Homo sapiens: one gene and its partners. The protein of the gene in region 1 interacts with the protein of each later gene in a pairwise test. Each region holds a gene or a part of one and is shown on either strand. Other genes may lie near its edges. The genes, in order: RNF111, LRSAM1, UBE2Q2, PHF7, DTX3L and CFAP418.

The links.
Region 2: the proteins of RNF111 (region 1) and LRSAM1 interact in a two-hybrid assay, tested with the Homo sapiens proteins (one large-scale study listed by BioGRID and IntAct).
Region 3: the proteins of RNF111 (region 1) and UBE2Q2 interact in a two-hybrid assay, tested with the Homo sapiens proteins (one large-scale study listed by BioGRID and IntAct).
Region 4: the proteins of RNF111 (region 1) and PHF7 interact in a two-hybrid assay, tested with the Homo sapiens proteins (one large-scale study listed by BioGRID and IntAct).
Region 5: the proteins of RNF111 (region 1) and DTX3L interact in a two-hybrid assay, tested with the Homo sapiens proteins (one large-scale study listed by BioGRID and IntAct).
Region 6: the proteins of RNF111 (region 1) and CFAP418 interact in a two-hybrid assay, tested with the Homo sapiens proteins (one study listed by IntAct).

Annotation. Positions count from the first base shown.
Region 1 is NC_000015.10:59,078,163-59,081,662, forward strand, and holds part of RNF111 (E3 ubiquitin-protein ligase Arkadia), read left to right. Parts: intron 1-2,773; coding exon 2,774-3,122; intron 3,123-3,500. UniProt on the Homo sapiens protein: E3 ubiquitin-protein ligase. Required for mesoderm patterning during embryonic development. Acts as an enhancer of the transcriptional responses of the SMAD2/SMAD3 effectors, which are activated downstream of BMP.
Region 2 is NC_000009.12:127,489,510-127,493,009, forward strand, and holds part of LRSAM1 (E3 ubiquitin-protein ligase LRSAM1), read left to right. Parts: coding exon 1-9; intron 10-1,705; coding exon 1,706-1,786; intron 1,787-3,292; coding exon 3,293-3,388; intron 3,389-3,500.
Region 3 is NC_000015.10:75,874,447-75,877,946, forward strand, and holds part of UBE2Q2 (ubiquitin-conjugating enzyme E2 Q2), read left to right. Parts: intron 1-378; coding exon of another isoform or gene 379-387; exon of another isoform or gene 388-462; intron 463-1,740; coding exon 1,741-1,825; intron 1,826-3,500.
Region 4 is NC_000003.12:52,413,660-52,417,159, forward strand, and holds part of PHF7 (E3 ubiquitin-protein ligase PHF7), read left to right. Parts: intron 1-336; coding exon 337-389; intron 390-836; coding exon 837-928; intron 929-3,500.
Region 5 is NC_000003.12:122,570,838-122,574,337, forward strand, and holds part of DTX3L (E3 ubiquitin-protein ligase DTX3L), read left to right. Parts: intron 1-840; coding exon 841-910; 3' UTR 911-3,500.
Region 6 is NC_000008.11:95,252,202-95,255,701, reverse strand, and holds part of CFAP418 (cilia- and flagella-associated protein 418), read left to right. Parts: intron 1-3,418; coding exon 3,419-3,500. UniProt on the Homo sapiens protein: May be involved in photoreceptor outer segment disk morphogenesis.

The DNA of each region.
Region 1 (3,500 bases):
GGAATAATTCCTATTGGCTATAAATTGTGATACTTGGATCCAGATGAATAGTTTGCTGTTTCATAAGTACATTTATATGTATAACAACAATACTTGTGGAGTAAGAATATGTCTCTCTCTGCTTTTGAAAGGTTTGTGGTCTTGATGAAGTGATAAAACAACTGTACTTGAAATGCTATTATTTAAAAGTTTTACTATCTTATTAATAAGATGTATTGAGAAGATATGTAAGGCCTGGCTTGGTAGTATGAGCATGTAGTTCCTGCTCTTCAGGAGGCTGAGGCATGGGGATTGCTTGAGCTCAGGAGTTCAAGGTTGTAGTGTGCTGTTATCACACCTGTGAACAATCCTTGTACTCCTGCCTGGACAACATAGTGAGAACCTGTCTCTAAAAAAAAAAAAAAAAAAAAAAAGACCAGGCACAGTGGCTCACGCCTGTAATCCCAGCACTTTCGGGAGGCCGAGGCGGGTGGATCACCTGAGGTCAGGAGTTCAAGACCAGCCTGGCCAACATGGCGAAACCCTGTCTCTACTAAAAATTCAAAAACTAGCCGGGTGTGGTGGCAGGTGCCTGTAATCGCAGCTACTCGGGAGGCTGAGGCAGGAGAATTGCTTGAACCTGGGAGATGGAGATTGCAGTGAGCTGAGATCACACCACTGCACTCCAGCCTGGGCGATAGAGCGAGTCTCCCTCTCAAAAGAAGAAAAAAAAAAAAAAAAGAGAGGTATAGGTAAGGCTACTTACGATTAATCATAAAGCAAATGGTCTACACTGTAAAGCTATGGGAATGCAGTGAGTAAATGTTGGAATAAAGCATAGTATTACATCTGCAAGTGATATGTTGAACGTCTAGGAAACAATATCAAGAACTTTTTTTAACTGTTGGGAACACAAATAGAGGAAGGGAAAGGGTTTTTGGGAATGTGGAATATGTCACTCTTAAAATGGTCAGCAACCTGTTTTGTTTAAACAGTGAATTAAAGTGATGTCTAAAGAGTAGTTAAATAAATGGACTCATTCTGAAACAAAACTTCTTGCTTTGTAATATTTGTGAATGTTGTATAATGATTACACAAATATAAAACTTTGCAACTAGAAAAAATGCTGTGAATTTGAGAAAGGATAGTTAACAATCATAAAACATAGTGGATTCATTTTTTATGATTAAGAGCTAGCTACTGAGCTTTGTGCCTTCTTGAAGAGTAAAGCATTGATTTGAAAACAGAACTTTTAGAAAATTGGTTTAAAAATTTGTCTTGCAACTTTTAAAAATTAGATTTGTTGAAAGTTTCCTTTAAGTACATGCTAACAAGGCATACTTTGAAAATATAGTTGAGTTATTGTTACCTAACTTCTGCCCTTGCTGAATGAATCAAAAGCATTAAAAATTGAAAACTTCTGTAATGAAACTAGAGAATGGCTGTTGGTCTATATCAGACTTCCAAGAACATCTTCCAATAAAATGAAATTTGTATTGAAATCTAAGACAAACTTTTTTTTTTTTTTTACATGTCAAGTAGATGCACATCTCTAAGAGTAAGGAAGATGTGTATTCCTCAGAGAGATTTTTCAGCAGTCACTTTGAAACATAAAGATGTAGAATGAAGAAATGGTAGGAGCCATCTTATTAAGGACTTTACGTCCATATTTGATGGGAAACAAATAGGTCTCCTTCACCTTAATGTAGCACAGGAATAATGACATGGGGTAGGGAGAGAGAGAGACAGTTTGGAAAAATGTTTACACCCTATTATGACAGAGCTTCCATATATGCAAATAATACTTACAAGTCAATAAGAAAAAGGTGAGTAATACAATAGGCTAAGCATGTAAATAGATAATTCTGAGAACACATACAAGCGGTCAAGAAATAAAAGATTTTTCTCAGATTGGCATTTATTTTAAAAATTTAGTGGTAATGTGGGGGTAATCAGGCCTTCTTGTGTGCTCCTTTTTTTTTTTTTTTTTTTTTTTTGAGGTGGAGTCTCACTCTGTCGCCCAGGCTGGGGTGCAGTGGCATGATCTCAGCTCACTGCATCCTCCACCTCCCAGGTTCAAGCGATTCTCCTGCCTCAGCCTCCCTAGTAGCTGGGATTACAGGTGTGCATCACCATGCCTGGATAATTTTTGTATTTTTAGTGGAGACGGGGCTTCGCCATGTTGGCCAGGCTGGTCTCGAACTCCTGGCTTCAGGTGACTCTGCCCACCTTGGCCTCCTAAAGTGCTGGGATTACAGGTGTGAGCCACGGTGCCTGGCCCTTCCTGTGTACTCTTGATGGAAATATTAATTATGGCAACCTTTTGGAAAGGGTATTTTTATTAACTGGCATCTAAATTTATTTTTTTCTTTCTGTCCCACAACTACTTACAGGAATTTATGCTACAGAAATGATCTCTATATATGTGTGTATACATGTGTGTAAATGAAAGAGTGAGTGCAGGAGTGAGCATATACACAGATATTTATCATAGCATTTGGGTTTCTTTTTTATCAGTGGGGATTTTGTCAGTACATTTTGGTGTGTTCATATAATAGAATGTTGTGAAGCTGTGAGTGAAGTTAAACTATAATATATATATTGACATAAGATATCCAAGATTATTGTAAGAAGGGAGCAAGTTGCTTGAGCAGTTGCTTGAATACTTTACTTGATAAAGTATTCATAAAAATAAAATACTAATATGTTTAAAAGTACACTAGGAATGTATAATAGCAATATATGTTCAACTGCATGGTGCCTATGTAACATACTCAAAATATTTTTCTTGCAGATGCCTCTTTGACAAGGCCACTTCATCATCAAGCTTCTGCCTGCCCGCATTCTCATGGAAACCCCCCTCCTCAGACTCAGCCTCCGCCTCAAGTGGATTATGTTATTCCTCATCCTGTACATGCTTTCCATTCTCAAATATCTTCTCATGCAACATCTCATCCTGTGGCACCCCCACCACCAACTCACTTAGCCAGTACAGCTGCACCAATCCCTCAGCATCTTCCTCCTACACACCAGCCAATTTCGCACCATATTCCAGCCACAGCACCTCCAGCACAGAGACTGCATCCTCATGAAGTGATGCAGAGGATGGAAGTTCAAAGGAGGAGGATGATGCAGCATCCAACGTATGTTTTACGTTTTTAAAAAGAAAGTCAAGTTTGCTTTTTCTTCTACTTCCATTGGTCTTTACAACTCTGAAATCCAACTAGGCATGGTGGCATGCACTTGTAGTCACAGCTCCTTGGGAGGCTGAGACAGGAGGATTGCTTGAGCCCAGGAGTTTGAGTCCATCTGGGCAACACAGTGAAATACTGTTTTTTGTTGTTGTTGTTTTCTTTTTTTAAAAAAAGAACAAAGAACAGCAACAACAACAAAAAAAACCATGAAGTCTTTAGAAATAATGTAACTTGTAACTATAAGCTGGGTGAGGCTCATTCCCGTAATCCCCAGTTGCTCAGGAGGCTAAGGCAGGAGGATAATTTGAGCCCAGGAGTTCAAAGCTG
Region 2 (3,500 bases), on another chromosome or scaffold:
AGGAGCCAGGTGAGCGCTGGGGCTGGGGTCCCTGGACCTGCTCTCTCAGAGACTTGCAGAGTGGCCCTCCAGGGCGGCAGGTCGCAGCAGTTGAGGTTTGAACCCCAGCTCCTTGGCTTGCTAGCCCAACAAGAGGTCGAGGCCTTGCCCTCAGAACCTCCCTTTGCTCCCAGCCTTGTGTCGGGGCTGCTGGGAGGGTGTCTAGAGACCTCCTATTCCGGGGTCTGGCGAGGGTCTTGCCAGCGAGGCGGGTCTCCACCACGCCTGGGCCAGGGAGGCTGGTGCTGATGTGTGGCTTTGACTGCTCCAGCTGCCTCTGCTGTCCCTGCTCCAGGCAGGACTTCCCCACTGGGAAAAGCAGCCGGCGCAGGCCCCAGCGCTCCTACAGCTCAGACAGACAGAGGCGTCTCAGGGGCATATAGTATTTCCCCCAGAAGAGGGCAGGGGGAGCTGTGAGCCACGGTGGTCCTGACGCCTGCTGAAAAGTGACCTCGGCCCAGGAGGAGGCGGTCCTCCTCTTAGACCCTCCCTCATGTGACAAGATACCCCCCACCCCCCGCAGGCCGGCTGCTGACCTTCAAGCCTTGGGCAAGCCCACCTACACGGCTTGGTGGTCACCGCCTGTGGAGTGGGGCTGGGGCTGGGGCTGAAGTGAGCGTCAGGCTATGGGAGTACTCCTGCATCATGTTCAGCACACTGAATTTTGCATTTTTGCATGGTTTTTTTCTTTCTCTATTTTTCTTTCTTTCTTTCTTTCTTTCTTTCTTTTTTTGGACCAATTTACCTTTTTAATTTCCCTCTTTAATTTCAATTCCACATTGCCGGACATGAAGCTCATTCCTCTGACCAGGGGTTGGTGGTGTCATAGGGACTTAGGGATGAGGGTCACAGGGTCATGGGCACAGGATAGAGAAGTACTGGCTATGGGGTCTGACCCCCACCCCTGCCCAGGGCTAAAATCCCCTAGACACACCCTGGAGAGCCTGTGAGGGCCCCCCACATTCTCACTGCAGATGGTTTTGACCAGGTCAGCTATTGCCCTTAAACCCTGAGCTGAGGCATCCCAGAGAAAGGGATCTCTCCCTTACCTGCTCTGTGTCCTTGAGCAAGTGAGAACCTCTCTGAGCCTCAGTTTTCTTGTCTATAAAATGGAGGCAATAATACCTCCTAGCAGCCAGAGAATTGATGAAATATGATACATCAAGTGTGCAGCACAGGCCTAGCACATAGTAGGTGCTCAAGACATACCAGCTACTACTACCACTGTTACTCAGTCACTTCCACTACCCTCTGCTCTCCCCTGCAACAGCGATGCGAGGGACAAGAGAACTTGACCAGCAGGAGACTGGGTGATAGCTCTGTCTGTGCTTTACTCTGGCCTGAATCCCCAAGGAAAGCCCCCTCTCCATTGCACAAGCCTTTATCCTGATCCCACTCTAGGAGAGATCCTGTGCTGGCCTCTTGGTAAACAATTTTGGCCACAACAAGCACGTCCATGCCCCAGGAACGCGAGGCCATGAAGGAACGAATTCTTGTTCAAGCCCCTTGACGAGGTTCCCAGGCCCGCAGGTTCCCCTCATTCCAGAGCCTCCCCAGCCTCCCCAGAAAGGCTTCTTAGACCCACTTGGTCACCAGAGAGTAGCAGCACAAAACTGAACTGTGGTTAATGTGAGTAAAAAAAAACCCTGTCTCGTCTTCTGTTTAGATTAAGTTAATAGAAACTGAGTTATTGCAGCTGACACAGCTGGAGTTAAAGAGGAAGTCCCTGGACACAGAGTCACTCCAGGTATGTAGGGCTCCCTGCCCCTGCCCTCCTTCACGTGGTGAGACCCCCACCTGGTGCTCCCTCCCAGCCTCTGGCAGCTGCTCACCAGCCCCTGGGAGTCAAGGGCTTCCCCAGCAGACAGAGGGCAGAGCTCCTCTGTGGCTGTGACACCAGAGGACACCCCCCAGCCCCAGAAGGCCCAGCGCAGGCCAAGGTTAGAGGTGGTCAGCCTGTTGCGAGGCAGGAGGGTCAGAGGAAGGAGGGTTTCATTGCCAAGGCTCCCCTGCTCATCTCCATCACTGTGTCTCCTGTGCTGGGTGCGGGCCCGCCGCTGAGCTCCTGTCTCTCTCTGTAGGCCGTGCTTTAGGCCCCCAGGCACACATCCTCCAGGGCTGGAGCTTTTGGGTGTCCCGGGTTGTCTGGAGGAGAGGGCCCAGCCGCATCTGTGTAACTCCCTGCAGGCAGCATCTCTGGGGCTCCAGCCCGGGAGTCCTGCGCACACAGATGAGAGGGCAGCAGGGACTGGCAGCTGGCGTCCTGGACTGGATGCCTGGGAGCCGGGTGTGGCCCAGCACAGCCCTGCTGTGCAACTTTGGCAGGTGGGGGAGGAGAGGCAGCCCTTTCCCCTCTCTGAACCTCAGCCTCTCCAGCTGCAGACGGAGGGCTGGATGGGATGGTGTGTGAGGACATGTGCCTGTGCCAGGAGTTTGAGCAGAGCCTTCGGTCTGTCACTGTCCCTGTGTCTGTTCTCAGTGGAGAAGTCTCAAGCCATCCCATGGACTCCTCAGTGCAGTGAAGGGTCTGGGATCTGGATCCCTGGTCTCAGGTGCACCGCAGGTGTGCTGTGTGCCCTTAGACAGGCCTCTGCCCCTCCAGGCCTTCTTCCCCTACTCCATAAGATGGCAGCGGTCCTCCAGGCCCAGCCTGTGCCATCAGGCCATCGGAGAAGGCTGAGCTAGCAAGGGAAAGCCCTTTGTGAGCCTTGAAATGATCTCCAGAGATGAGGGGACTGGGACTGCTCTCAGAGAAGCTGCGGTCATCATGCCTGGCGGGTGCCCTAGTCCCTGCCCACAAGTGTGGCAGGGCTCTGGCTGTTGGGGCCCCCATGGGGTTTCCAAGAGCAGGCGCAGGAGTGAAGCAGGGACCCCAGGCTCTGGTTTGCACGCACCTCCATTTGTGTGGGGCCCCACACTGCTCCCCGCCATTTGCTTCTGCCCATGTGCTCTGTTGTCTGGGAGACCAAAGGCAGGCACCTGTGGCTTGTCATTTCTTTTGTTTGATGTTTCTTACCATCCCATTGTCATCAGTCACCAGGATCCCATGCCTGACTTAACCCCACAAGGAAGAGAGATGCGGGCTTAGGGTAAGGGGGCAGAAGGGCCTCTTAGCTTTGTCCCCCAACGCAGCCTGGAGGCATTGGGCAGAGAACCGAGTGAGCGGGAGGCCAGGCCCTTCTCCATCCTGCCACTGCGGGACTCCTGCGCTGCCGCCAGCTCACGGTGGTGCGGGGTGTGGTCTTGTTCGCAGGAGATGATCTCGGAGCAGCGCTGGGCCCTCAGCTCCCTGCTCCAGCAGCTGCTCAAAGAGAAGCAGCAGCGAGAGGAAGAGCTCCGGGAAATCCTGGTATGTGTTTGGCTTCTGTGCTCAGCATCACACAGGCATTTGCTTTTCTTTAACAGACTTGCCATTTTTAGAAACACCTGTTATTCAAGTAAGAGTTATTCATCAAAGAAAA
Region 3 (3,500 bases), about 17 Mb from region 1:
CTAATTTTTGTATTTTTAGTAGAGACAGGGTTTCACCATGTTGGCCAGGCTGGTCTTGAACTCCCGACTTCAAGTGATCCACCTGCCTTGGCCTCCCGAAGTGCTGGGATTACAGGTGTGAGCCACTGTGTCCGGCCACAACTTAATATCTCTTTTACGTGAAGCAGCAGGATGTGAAAAGAACACTGAGTCTGGTGACAAACACACAATTTATGGTTTCACTTTCCTCAGCTCTAAAATATGGCTAGACAGTACATACCTTTTGGATGATTGCTATCAAAAATAAATGAAAATGATGTGTGTATATATATAAAATGCTCAGAGTAGGGAAACATCAAATGATTGTCTGAACACTTACTACTTTTTGCCTTGTGTTAGAGCTATTGACCAACTCCGTGAAATCTGAGTAGCAGTTACTTTGTCTTGGGCACAGGTTCCCCAAAACAGGGAATGAATTGTTAGGTAAGTAGATGCCAAATGTTGAAAACAGGTAGATTACTCTCCCTCCTTCAGTCTAATTTATATATTAATCTAATTTATAATTTTTAGTAGAGCAAAGAAATTTAGTCAAGCCCCCATATCTTGATTACTTAAAAAACAAAGTTTGTCATTTGAATTAATGATGACTGTACTTTATGTCTTGTGATCGATTCCAGTTTGAGTTATAGTCAAAACAACTATAAGTTACTGAACACTTTTGCATGATGGATACTATGCCAAGTACTTTATACTTCACATATCTTCACATTTAGTCTTCATAGCCACCGTGTGAAATAGGTATGCTTCATATTTTAGAGATAGGAAAAACTTCTCATATTTTGTAGATATGAAATGAGCTAGGAAACTTGATTTTTCCCCCCTTCAAAGTATAGTGCAATGTTTAAAATCTTTAATTTCACGTGACCAAAAAATAGTTCCGTTTGTATTTAGTCTTATGATAAGATATTGATGTGTTTTCATCTTTAGAGATGTCCCTGCACTGAAAAACTGAAACCAGTCGCATGTAGGCAGATGTTTCTCAGTGTCTTAATGTGCGAACTAGACCATCTGTGTAATATTCTTGTTTGTAGTCTTATGAATGGAACTCTATTTTAGTAAATAATGTGTCACCTTGAGTGTCTTCTAGTATTTTCAAAAATTGCTGGGGTTTGGAATAGACTCATACTGAATTCTTTGTTATTGTGGAATCCATGGTGGTCTGGACATGTTGGCTAGACTTTTTCACATGAGAAGAAATAGGAAATGAACTAGACTTGTGCCTAGTTTTAATATCCTCTTGAAACTTCATAATGCTTCATTTAATTGGGCTTTTTTTTACTTCTTAAAATGTTGAGGTTGGGCACAGTGGCTCATGCCTGTAATCCCAGCACTTTGGGAGGCCGAGGCAGGCAGACCACGAGGTCAAGAGATTGAGACCATCCTGGCCAACATGGTGAAATCCCGTCTCTACCAAAAAAAAAAATACAAAATTTAGCTGGGCGTGGTGGTGCGCACCTGTAGTCTCAGCTACTTGGGAGGCTGAGGCAGGAGAATCTCTTGAGCAGGGAGGCGGAGGTTGCAGTGAACTGAGATTGCGCCACTGCACTCCAGCCTGGGTAACAGGGCTAGACTCCATCTCCAAAAAAAAAAAAAAAAAATGTTGAGTGGTGATCCATTTTTGCTGTAATCTTTTAGATCAGGTTGAAATATCTTAAATCTTAGCTCAGCAGACCCTGGTAAACAGTGGCTTTTGTGTTTCAGGGTGCAGTGTCTGGGTCAGTGCAAGCTTCAGATAGACTTATGAAAGAGCTCAGGGACATATACAGATCACAGAGTTATAAAACAGGTAAGGATCTCTGGATCCCTGCTCTCTTTATGATTCTTCTGCTCTTTTCTATTGTCAGATTATAAATGTCATTTCTTAAAACTGGACAGAAATGGAAATGTTTACTAGCTTTATTTCAGGAATGTGAAACTCAAATGCAATCAAGTTCCAAAAGATGTAGGAGTAAAATAGGATGAGTTTACTTGTCTTTTGGATTTTTAAAAAATGTTTTTATAGGTCCATTGGAATTTTGTCCTCTTCTTGATAAACAGTGAACTCTTACATGATTTTTATCTTCTGGGGAAAGCATGAGCGATATTGCTTGGAAAGTAAATAAGAGTAAAACATTTCATTTTACAGAGAATAATTGCCAAGTTGATTTTTATGATTCCCCCCCATTTTTGAAAGCAAGATAATCAGCTTTTATTGTAAAGATAGTTATGTTATTACCTTTAAAATATATAAGTTTTTAAAGTTTTCATTTCCTTGTTTGACGAGTATTCTTACTCAATATGACTTGAATGTTATGGAACCTCTCTAACTAGAGGTAAAATTCTCATATTGTTATGGAGATTCTAATAGTATTAAATAATGAGCCAAACTTTAATTTGAAAAGATAGCATTGGTTGGGTGCGGTGGCTCACACTTATAATCCCTGCACTTTGGGAGGCCAAGGTGGTCAGCTCACCTGAGGTCAAGAGTTCAAGACCAGCCTGGCCAACATGGCGAGCGAAGCCCCATCTCTACTAAAAATAAAAAATTAGCCGGGTGTGGTGGCGCACGCCTGGTGATCCGAGCTACTCAGTGGTCTGAGGCAGGAGAATCACCTGAACCCAGGAGGCAGAGGCTGTAGTGAGCCAAGATTGCACCACCGCACTCCAGCCTGGGCAGCAAGAGTGAGACTCTGTCAAAAAAAAAAAAAAAAAAAAAAAAGGGTTATGACCGATTCAATTCTAGCATTATGACCGATTCAGGAATTCTTAGCGTGAGCAAATCAAAATTAATTAGAATTTGCTTAAAGAATAAAAACAAGGAAAAAATCCTTGCTTTGTAGTGTGCAGGATAAGCCAAACTTGTTTCTGAGTTGTTAGAATTGTGGGTGTCCTTACGGTTTTTTGTGTAAGAAGTCTAAAAGTTTATCTGTAGAAACCTAATAAAGTACAAACATTTGAATACTGGTTTTATTTTTAAATGTTAAATAATCATTTGTTTCAGCATTGTTTATATAGAAAAAAAAAAACAGATACTGGGTGGAATTTGTTAAAGCATATCCATAAAATAAACTACCACAGAGTCATTAAAAAGATTGTGAATAGGTTTATGTATACTAACTTGGAAAGATGTCCCTGAAAGTTGAAGAGAGATTATAAAACAACATACGTAGAAGGATTCCATCTTTGTAGAAATGTGTGTTCATGGAAGAAAAGTCTTAAGTACATATGATTTTGCATAATCTTTTTTTCAGTCAGACTAAACGGTAAGCAGTTTTTCAACTCATTAAAGAATCTTCTCAGTTGATGGCTGTAATTATCTGTTAAGGGCATAAGATACTCAGCTGCAGTAGTGTAATATTTACTATATAGCTTAGTTGTTCCATGTTTTAAGAGCAAAATTTCTAGCTTTCGTTGGCTATTTAGTGTATACATTTATACCATAGTAATAGTTATATGATGAAATGAAGAGTAGCTAACATGCT
Region 4 (3,500 bases), on another chromosome or scaffold:
CCCCGTCTCTACTAAAAATATAGAAATTAGCTGGGCGTGGTGACAGGCGCCTGTAATCCCAGCTCCTCGGGAGGCTGAGGCAGGAGAATTGCTTGAACCCAGGAGGCAGAGGTTGCAGTAAGCTGAGATCGCACCACTGCCCTCCAGCCTGGGCAACAGAGCAAGACTCTGTCTCAAAAACATATATATGTGAAATATGAAAAGAAGCTGATGTCTTAGGCTTTAGATATGTTGGTCCTTCATCAGACCCATGAATGGCATTTTAAGAGAAATGTTAAAAAGGTTATCAACAAGATCCCCAAAGAACACCTTGTGCTTCTTATTTCTCTTGTATAGAAAATCTGCCAAGACTAGGAGGGTAACCCAGAGGAAACCGTCTTCAGGGCCTGGTAAGAAAGACTGGAGCTTGTGTTCGCCCACTGCCTCCAGCCCTCAGCAAAGAAGGCCACCTGTGTGGGGCAGTATACTTGCTTCTTCTCTCTCTCCCAGCCCTACTTCCTTCCTAGATTCTCTAAGATCTTGAGGACTCAGGAACTGCCATTTTAAATTACCATGTCTGAAGTTCAAGAAACAAGTTATTAAAGTCACTTTAGAACAAAACAAAACCAAAAAAAAATGAAGTGAGCAGTTGTGGCCAACTTTTTCATTGTAACCAGAATTATGTGACAGACTAATTGATACCACATAAGACCTCATCCCAACCTTCCTCCTTGCCAAAATGACCCTTTTCCTAGTATTCTACTCCTTCCTGACTTAGAGGAATGGTTACATTCTCACCCTTCTCTTCCATTCTTAATGGTCAATTTGAGCCAAATTCTGGGTGTCCTCTCTTCCAGTTTGCTGGCTATGCCTTCGAGAACCTGGGGATCCCGAAAAATTAGGGGAATTTCTTCAGAAAGACAATATCAGCGTGCATTATTTCTGTCTTGTGAGTATGAGGCCTCCTTTGCTTTGAATATCCTATGGCTTTTGGTGTACTGACTGTTCTCTGTTACATTCATCCTCATATCCACAGCCTTGTTTTTTTATTTTTCTTAATAGCTTTTTTGTTTTAAAATCTATTTTTAGGCTGGGTGCAGTGGCTCACGCCTGTAATCCCAGCACTCTGGGAGGCCGAGGCAGGAGGATCTCTTGAACCCAGGAGTTCAAGACCAGCCTGGGCAACCTTGTCTCTACAAAAAAATTAAAAAAAAAAAAAAAAAAGCTGGGTATAGTGACAAATGCCACTCCGGAGGCTAAGGCAAGAGGATCGCTTGAACCCTGGAGGTGGAGGCTGCAGTGAGCAGTGATCACACCACCACACTCCAGCCTGGGTGACAGAGGAAGACCTTGCCTCAAAAAAAGAAAAATATATGTGTCTGGTATAAAATCTTGACAGTATAAAGTAAGTTCAGTAAAAAAGTCTCTTCCCTAAACAATGTTCCCAATCCTTCTCCCTCTCCCCAGAAACAAATGCTGTCAAAGTTGTAACATCCTTCCAATTGCTTTTTCCCAGTATTTTTTTATTAGGTATAACTTTCATACTGTAAAAATCACCAATTTTTTTCTTTTTTTGAGAACGGAGTCTCACTCTCTTGCCCAGGCTAGAGTGCAGTGGCGTGATCCCGGCTCACTGCAACCTCTGCCTCCCTGGTTCAAGTGATTCTCCTGCCTCAGCCTCCCAAGTAGCTGGGATTACAGACACCTACCACCATGCCTGGCTAATTTTGTATTTTTAGTAGAGACAGGTTTCACCGTGTTAGCCAGGCTGGTCTTGAACAAAATTCACTAATTTTAAGGGTCCAGTTTGATAAGTTTTGATAAATGTATGTCCCCAAATAACCACCACCCCAATCAAAATAGGTAATATTTTCATCACCCCAGAAAGTTCCCTCCTGCCTCCTTTTCCAGTCAATCCCACTAGACGTAATCACTGTTCTGATCTATGGATTATTTTTGGCTATTCTTTTACTTCATATAAGTGAAATCATATAGTTTATAATCTTCTGTATCTGGCTTTTTTCTCCCAACACAGTGTTTTGGAGATTCATCCATGTTGTTGCATGCATTCATAGCTTGTGCCTTTTTATTACTTGGTAGTATTCGGTTGCATGAATAAGTTACTATTTGCTTATCTGTTCACCTGTTGATGAACATCTGAATTGTTTCCATTTGAGGACTATTATGAATAAAGCTACTTTAAGCATTCATGTACAAGTCTCTTTGTGAACATGTGCTTTCACTTCTCTTGTGCAGATGCCTAGAAGTGGAATTACTAGTTGTATGCTAATTAGATATTTAACTTTATGTGAGGTTGCCACATCACTGTCCAAAGCGGTTGTACCAGCTTACACTCCTACCAGCAATTTATAAGAAGTCCAGTTGCACAGTATTCTTGCCGGAACTTTGTTTTGTCAGTGTTCTTAATTTTAGCCATTCTACTGGGTGTGTATTGGTATTTCATTGTCGTTTTAATTTCCATTTTTCTGATGACTAAAGCTTCTTTTCATGTGCATATTGGCCATTCACATATTTTCTTTGGTTTTTTGGTTTTTTTTTTTTTTTGAGATGGAGTCTCGCTCTGTCGCCCAGGCTGGAGTGCAGTGGTATGATCTTGGCTCACTGCAGCCTCCACCTCCCGGGTTGGAGCAATTCTCCTGCATCAGCCTCCCAAGTAGCTGGGACTACAGGTGCCTGTCACCACGCATGGCTAATTTTTATATTTTTAGTAGAGACAGGGTTTCACCGTGTTAGCCAGGATGGTCTCGATCTCTTGACCTCGTGATCTGCCCACCTCGGCCTCCCAAAGTGCTGGGATTACAGGCGTGAGCCACCGCGCCTGGCCCGGCCCACATATTTTCGTTTGTTAAGTATCTGTACAAATATTTTTACCCATTTAAAAACACTGAGTGGTGGTCGGGCACAGTGGCTCACGCCTGTAATCCCAGAACTTTGGGAGGCCGAGGCGAGCAGATCAAGAGGTCAGGAGATGGAGACCATCCTGGCTAACACGGTGAAACCCTGTGTCTACTAAAAATAAAAAAATTAGCCGGGCATGGTGGCAGGCGCCTGTAGTCCCAGCTACTCGGGAGGCTGAGGCAGGAGAATGGCGTGAACCCAGGAAGTGGAGCTTGCAGTGAGCCGAGATCACGCCACTGCACTCCAGCCTGGGCGACAGTGCAAGACTCCGTCTCAAAAAAAAAAAAAAAAAATTGAGTGGTTTTATTATTGAGTTGTAGGAATTGCTTATATATTTCAGATACAAATTCTTTTTCAAATATATGTATTGAGACTATTTTCTTCCTAGTCTTTGGCTTGCCTTTTCATTTTCTTAATGGTGTCTTTCAAAGAACAAGTTTGTAATTGTAATGGAGCCCAGTTTATCCATTTTTTTCTTTTATGGTCAGTGCTTTTTGTGTGTTGCAAGAAATCTTTACCTACCCATAGAATTGCCTTGGTGCCTTTGTCAAAATCAATTGACCATATATCTGTGGATCTGGATAATCTATTTATGTCATTGA
Region 5 (3,500 bases), on another chromosome or scaffold:
CAACTTCTACCCTGCCAGCTATAAAGTACTATGGAGTTATTTAAATTTTGCACCAAAGGACAGGGGGCTTTTGAATCCGAGATGAATACTATATAAGCTGATTTAATTTGAGGCGTTGTGTCTATCTGAAGGCTAGATGCTCGGAATGTCACTTTGCTTCCTTTTAAGGTCACCTTTCTTTTTCACCCCTTCCCCCACCAGTCCACAGAGAACCTGAAATCACTTGGCCAATAATATTCTAGAAAAAGTCTAAGTTGTGAGGAGACTATTGGTAGAAACTGTATTATACGAAATCCAATTGTTCTTTATGAAACCCAAATAGGATTCCTCAGACCCTTGGCACTAAAGAAAAAATATATACCCTGAGACTTTTCCAAAACCTTAAATTTGAAAATCCTACTAGCATGTGATTACGATGCCCCCCTAAAACACAGTATATTATTATATTTTTAGGAGAGTCACTACTTACCATAAACTGAAAAATTTTAAGAATTAACATAGACATGAAGCCTCAAAGTAAATCAACGTATTACTATTCATCTTGGATTCTCAAACCCCCTGCCCTTTGATGCGAAATGTAATAAATACATCATATTAATACTTTGTAGTTGGCAGGGTAGAAGCCAGCTTGAAAGGCAGATGCTGGCCAGACAGCTAGGCTCACTCGCTAGCGAAATGACTCGCATCTGCGAATTTAAAAGTCATGATACGTCATCCACCTTCAGGATTACTTGTGAATGTTTGCAACACTGGATATTAATTAAATCCTTAAATGCTGGATATCTATTGCACATATCCGAACAATTTGTGGTGACACTAAAGGAATTTTTGTTTCTTCAGGTATGGCTATCCTGATCCTTCTTACCTGAAACGTGTCAAAGAGGAGCTGAAAGCCAAAGGAATTGAGTAAGACAACTGCTGGAAGATGTCTTAAATCAAGCTTTCAAAAAAATATATTTTAGGAGGCTGATTTAATGCCAGTCTAAATCCTTATGTAGAAAGGACTTTGAAATTTTTCTTCTCAAGAAATGGTTTGTATAAGAATAACAATCTGCTAGTCTGTCATTTCTGGAGTGATACTTTTTTTTTTGAGACGGAGTCTGCTCTGTCGCTCGCGCTGGAGTGCAGTGGCATGATCTCGGCTCACTGCAAGCTCCGCCTCCCAGGTTCATGCCATTCTCCTACCTCAGCCTCCCGAGTAGCTGGGACTACAGGCGCCCACCACCATGCCCGGCTAATTTTTGTTTTTGTATTTTTAGTAGAGACAGGGTTTCACTGTGTTAGCCAGGATGGTCTCGATCTCCTGACCTCGTGATCCGCCCGCCTCAGCCTTCCAAAGTGTTGGGATTATAGGCGTGAGCCACCGCGCCCAGCCCTGGAGTGATACTTTTTATGGAAGACAAAAGCCCCCCAAATCTGTGTAAAATCTGCTGCAAAGGTGTCATCCCTCTTGTGTCATCACTGGGGTTAGAGGTGGGTCCGAAATAATCTTCTGTGTCCTTCAGTTGGACTCTCGGCTGCCAATTGATCTCTTTTTCATTGCCATCTCTGGGGTGGTTCTTTGGTTTTTTGTGTGTTTTCCCCTTCATCTCTACCTGTGAAAGTGAAATTCTATTGTAAATGGGAGGAAAAAGGGTTGGTTGTGAAAAATTAAAGACCCACATTCTGCTTTCTTACTCATGGTAAGAAAAGTGGCCATGAGTAGAGATTGGGCAAGCATTGGTAATAAATGGAATAAGACTATTATTATTATTATTTGAGATGGAGTCTCACTCTGTCACCCAGGCTGGAATGCAGTGGTGTGATCTTGGCTCACTGCAACCTCCACTTCCCGGGTTCAAGCGATTCTCCTGCCTCAGCCTCCTGAGTAGCTGGGATTACAGGTGTGTGCCTCCACACCCGGCTAATTTTTTGTATTTTTAGTAGAGACGGGGTTTTGCCATGTTGGCCAGGCTGGTTTCAAACTCCTGAGCTCAAATGATCCTCCTGCCTTGGCCTCCCAAAGTGCTGGAATTACAGGCATGAGCCACCACACCCACACAAGACTATCATTTTTAATGACCAAGAGCCTAGTATATAGTTGGTGCCTGTCTTAGTCTGTTTGTGTTGCTATAAAAGAACACCTGAGACTGGGTAATTGATAAAGAAAAAGGTTTGTTTGGCTCACAATTTTGCTGGCTAGAAGGTTGGGCATCCGGTGAAAGCCTCAGGCTGCTTCCATTCATAGCAAAGGGCAGCCAGTGTGTGCAGAAATCAAATGACAGAGAGGAAGTGAGAGAGAGAGGTGTCGGGGAGGTGCCAGGCTCTTTTTAACAAGCAGTTCTTCAGGAACTAAGAGTGAGTCACTCCCATGAGAACAGCACCAAGCCATTCATGGGGGAATCTGCCCCCATGACCCAGACCCCTCCCGTTAGGCTTCACCTCCAACACTGAGGATCAAATTTCAACATGAGATTTGGAGGAGGTCAAACAAACTAAACTGTAGCAGTGTTTCATAAAATTGTTTGCCTGACTCAGGTTGCTAGTAAGCCAGCAGAGGGATATTTGCCTCCTAAATCTTTGGCAGAGGCAGGAGTAAGGAAGCCATTTCTGGAGTCCTTGCTACTAATTTGGAAAACTGAGCTTCTTTCTTTCATTGCTTTTTCCCTTAAGAGACAAGTCCTTACTATATTGCCCTGTCTCTCAAGGGAAGACATCAAGACTGGACTTGAACTCCTGGGCTCAAGCCATCCCCCAACCTTGGCCTCTCGAGTAGATGGGATTATAGGCATGTGCCACGGTGCCTGACTTGAGTTTCTTATTCTAGAACACTTGGAGCCTGAACTCTGACCAGGCCCCTCACTTGAGCCTTTGCTTTCTGCTCCTTGTAAACTGCCATATTGGGTGCACTTGCCCTGCCACAGTAATGCTATATATTTCTGAGCATTGTTTTTCTCTAGATAATTTTATATTTTTGAGTATACCCCACTTCCAAGTGTTTTTTGTTTTGTTTTGCTTTGTTTTTGTTGTTGTTGTTTTGAGACAGGGTCTCACTGTGTCCCCCAGGCTGGAGTGCAGTGGCACAATGACGACTCACTGCAGCCTCAACCTCCTGGGGCCAAGTGATCCTCCCACCTCAGCCTCTCAAGTGGCTGGGACCACAGAAGTGCACCACCATGCCTGGCTTTTTTTTTTTTTTTTGGTCGAGATGGGGTGTCCCTGTGTTGCCCAGACTGGTCTTGAACTCCTGGACTCAAGGGATCCTCCTGTCTTGGGCTCCCAAAGTGTTGGGATTACAGGCGTGAGTGACCATGCCTAGCTCACTTCCAGGTTTAACAGACAAAATAAACTTACTCTAGTTTCCATCTCTATCATTTTATAATAACCGTAGCCCACATTGTAGTAGTTTTTCAGCTCTTTACTAAGTCCCACCAATTCATGTTTTCACCCTTAAAATCTTTCTCACTGATACTCTCTCTGGACAGAAAAAAGGTGAAATAAGCCTACTATAAGGAATATAT
Region 6 (3,500 bases), on another chromosome or scaffold:
AACACATATTAACCACCTGATAGGTCCTAAGGATTAAATGAACAAATTTTGATGAACAAATAAATGGACACTTCCTGTCTTCAATGAGCTTTCAGTCTAGATGAGGAGATGGGCTTTAAATAGATTATTCCACAAATAAGTATTTATTTTCCATTTGATATGTGACATAAAGGGAACATATGGGATACTATAAGCATAGATAATGGACACTCTAACTAATATGAAGGGTCAGGGAATACTTCTCTGAGCAGATAATCAAACCACAATATGAAAAATGAGTAGGAGTTAGACAAAGAGAGGTGACCATTGGAGCCAGAGCACACGCATGTTTAGAAGCTCCCTGAGAAGGGGAGGAGCTGGGGGTGTTCCTCTGGTGGAAGGAACAGAGAGTATCTGGCCATGCTGGAGCATAATGAGTAGGGAAAGAATGGCCACTGACTGGGCTGGAGAGAGAGTGGAGGGACATTTGGCTTAGGGTCCTGTAATCCTTTTGAGGATTTTGGAAAAAGTTTGTCCTGTGTTCAATGGGCCAGATTTGTGTTTCTTAAAAAAGTCATGTTGGCTGCTGTGCAGAAAATGGCTTGGGAGTTGGAGGGGCAAGACAGGAAAGGACACAGGAAGACTAGTCAATGGGCAGTAGTTAGAGTGGTCCAGGAAAGAGAAGATGGGAGCTGTGACCTGCGTGGTAGCAATGGCTATAGGGAAAAGGTCAAATTTGAAATATTTAGAATATAGAATTGACAGAATTCAGTGATTGACTAAGGAGGGTAAGAAAGAAAGTTGTTAAGAATGACTCCCAAATAAGGTGCCTTGCTCAAGGTCATATCAGTTATTGCAAAGCAAGGATCCAGATTGGTTACTTGATTCCTAATCCATTATGCTTTCTATTATACCACTTAGCAGAAAGCCATGTAATATGGGAAGAATCTTAGCTGATGTTGCTGTTGGAACTGCTGTTATCTTCAAACTATCCAGACATCAAGTTTCTTTAGTCCCATTGTGCAGATCTGATAGGATTTAACAGAGAACCACAGTGTCTGGGCAGAAGATTGTATTGGGTTGGATTTGGGGCATTCCTGTCGTAAACATCTTTAAAATAGTGAATTCTACTTTTTAGCTGGACAAAAGAACAAAGCTCTTGGTGACATCTTATGTGTGATTCCCTCTACATTTTAGAGGGAAAGACCTGACAGTTTGTCTTTCACTGGAGTCATGACTTTATATTAGATATGCTTTTATGTACATAGTTATGAAAGAGAAATATATTTCAGCCCTGAAAAGAGTACTGATTTACATGGCCAGGGCATAAAGGAAATTGAATCTATCCTGCCTATTTGCGTTGTTTGATTTCTAGATACAGCTCTGGCTTGAGGTAATGCTGAATGACTTTAGATTTTAGAAAAAGATTTGTCTTTCACTTGTTGGTGGAAAAGGGGAGAGAATAGTAGTAGGAAGCATGGTGGCAGTAATAAGTACTACAGATAAAACGAAGGCATTTTCAAGCCAATCGAATTTTACTCTCAATTATTTTTTAAACAACTTGCAAGACTGGATTATTCCATAGACTGGTACTAATTATGATCTAATAGAGTAAATCGTAGCAGTGGAATGATTTCTTAGCTGCAAGTTAGTTTTATGTTTCTCAAAGGACAGTGTTTGTAGGAAAATGTGGTGGTGTGAATAGATTTGAATAAACTACTAAATTTTAAATTAAATTAAAAAGCTGTATTTAGCATTATGGTTGAGATTTTACACATACAAAATGTCAGGAAATTCTAAATTATAGTTCCCACAACAGCAATAATTCAGCCAAATTGCACATATGTATTAAGGCATTAAAGTTAACACTCTGTGCAATCATGTAATAAACTATATATGCATAAGAAAGCAGGTCATAGTAGCTTTGGGAACTATCAATTTGCATTTCCTGACTTGTACATTCGAAGTCTGAGTTCAAATGTGTACAAATGTAGTTGTTGAATTTCCAAATGTAGAAATGCAACTTCATAAATTGCTAACAGTTTGAAAGAAAATATGGACTTGCCTATGAAACTTGTATAGGTTTTAAATGTTTCATTATTATTATGGTTAATAGTATTTTTAGAAATACAAAGCATTTATTCTCAAAGAAATTTTCAGGCCAAAAGTATTTGCATTTTGAAATTAGCGTATCTGAACTTTGAAGGGAAATAAATGAAAAAAATCTAATGATGAGTTTATTTTTTCATTACAGAAGTATTATGTGCTTAATGAAAGAATAAAAACAAAATTGAAACATGTATAAAGAAAAAGATAATAATCTCCCTTCCTTCCCTTCAACCACTCCTGATGCAACCAGGGTTACTGTGTAGTATATAACTTTCTACATTTTGCTCCATGTTCTTTTTTTTTTGAGACAGAGTCTCGCTTTGTCGCCCAGGCTGGAGTGCAGTGGCGCGATCTCCCCTCACTGCAATCTCCGCCTCCCGGGTTCACGCCATTCTCCTGCCTCAGCCTCCTGAGTAGCTGGGACTACAGGCGCCCGCCACCATGCCCAGCTAATTTTTTTGTATTTTTAGTAGAGATGGGGTTTCACTGTGTTAGCCAGGATGGTCTCGATCTCCTGACCTCGTGATCCGCCCGCCTCAGCCTCCCAAAGGGCTGGGATTACAGGCGTGAGCCACCGCGCCCGGCCATTTTGCTCCATGTTCTTATAAACTTCTAGCCACCTATATAGGAATTTTTTGTGGGGGTCGTTTTTACAAAAATAGGATCATGCTATATATGTTAGTGTGCACCTTGCTTCAGATATCCCTCCAGGTTAGTATATAGTCTAGTTATCATGAGCATTGTTTGTTTCTTCTCTCACTGCAATCAAAGCTCTATGAAGACAGAATCTCATTAGCACATACCAGACTCTCAATAAATATTTTTTGAGTGAATGAATGCATTATGCCAAGTTGTGAGGAAGCAAACAAATACAATCTTTTCCCAGCGCTTAAGCAGCTTATCTGAAAAACAGATTCATTTCAATGTCATGTGACATATTCTTCGGTAGAGATATTCCTGAAAATTTCAGTAGGAAGGGGAGCATTTAAAGAAGTTAGCTTATATGACGATCTCCCTCAGACGTAATTTGAAAACCATGGAATTAAAAGATCTACAAATCTATTTTCTTTCATATCTATATAATATATGTGTAAGTTCAGTGTACAAGATCATAGTAAAATAGGTAGGTTTGTGCAAAAATTTAACCTTAAGGTTTAGACCGTAAATAATGCTTTAGTATAAAGATTTATAATCAGATTAATCTGTACTTTTCTGTTGTTTATTCAGTAATCTGTAATATGTGGTGTATCCTATAAATAAATCACCATGTTTTCATTGGTATTTAAAGATACCAATAATCTTTAATATACAATTTTTTTTCTCTGAACAGAGCATGTGACCATCTGCGTTGTATAGCCTGTGATTTCTTGGTAGTCAGCTATGATGACTATATGTGGGACAAATCGTGTGAT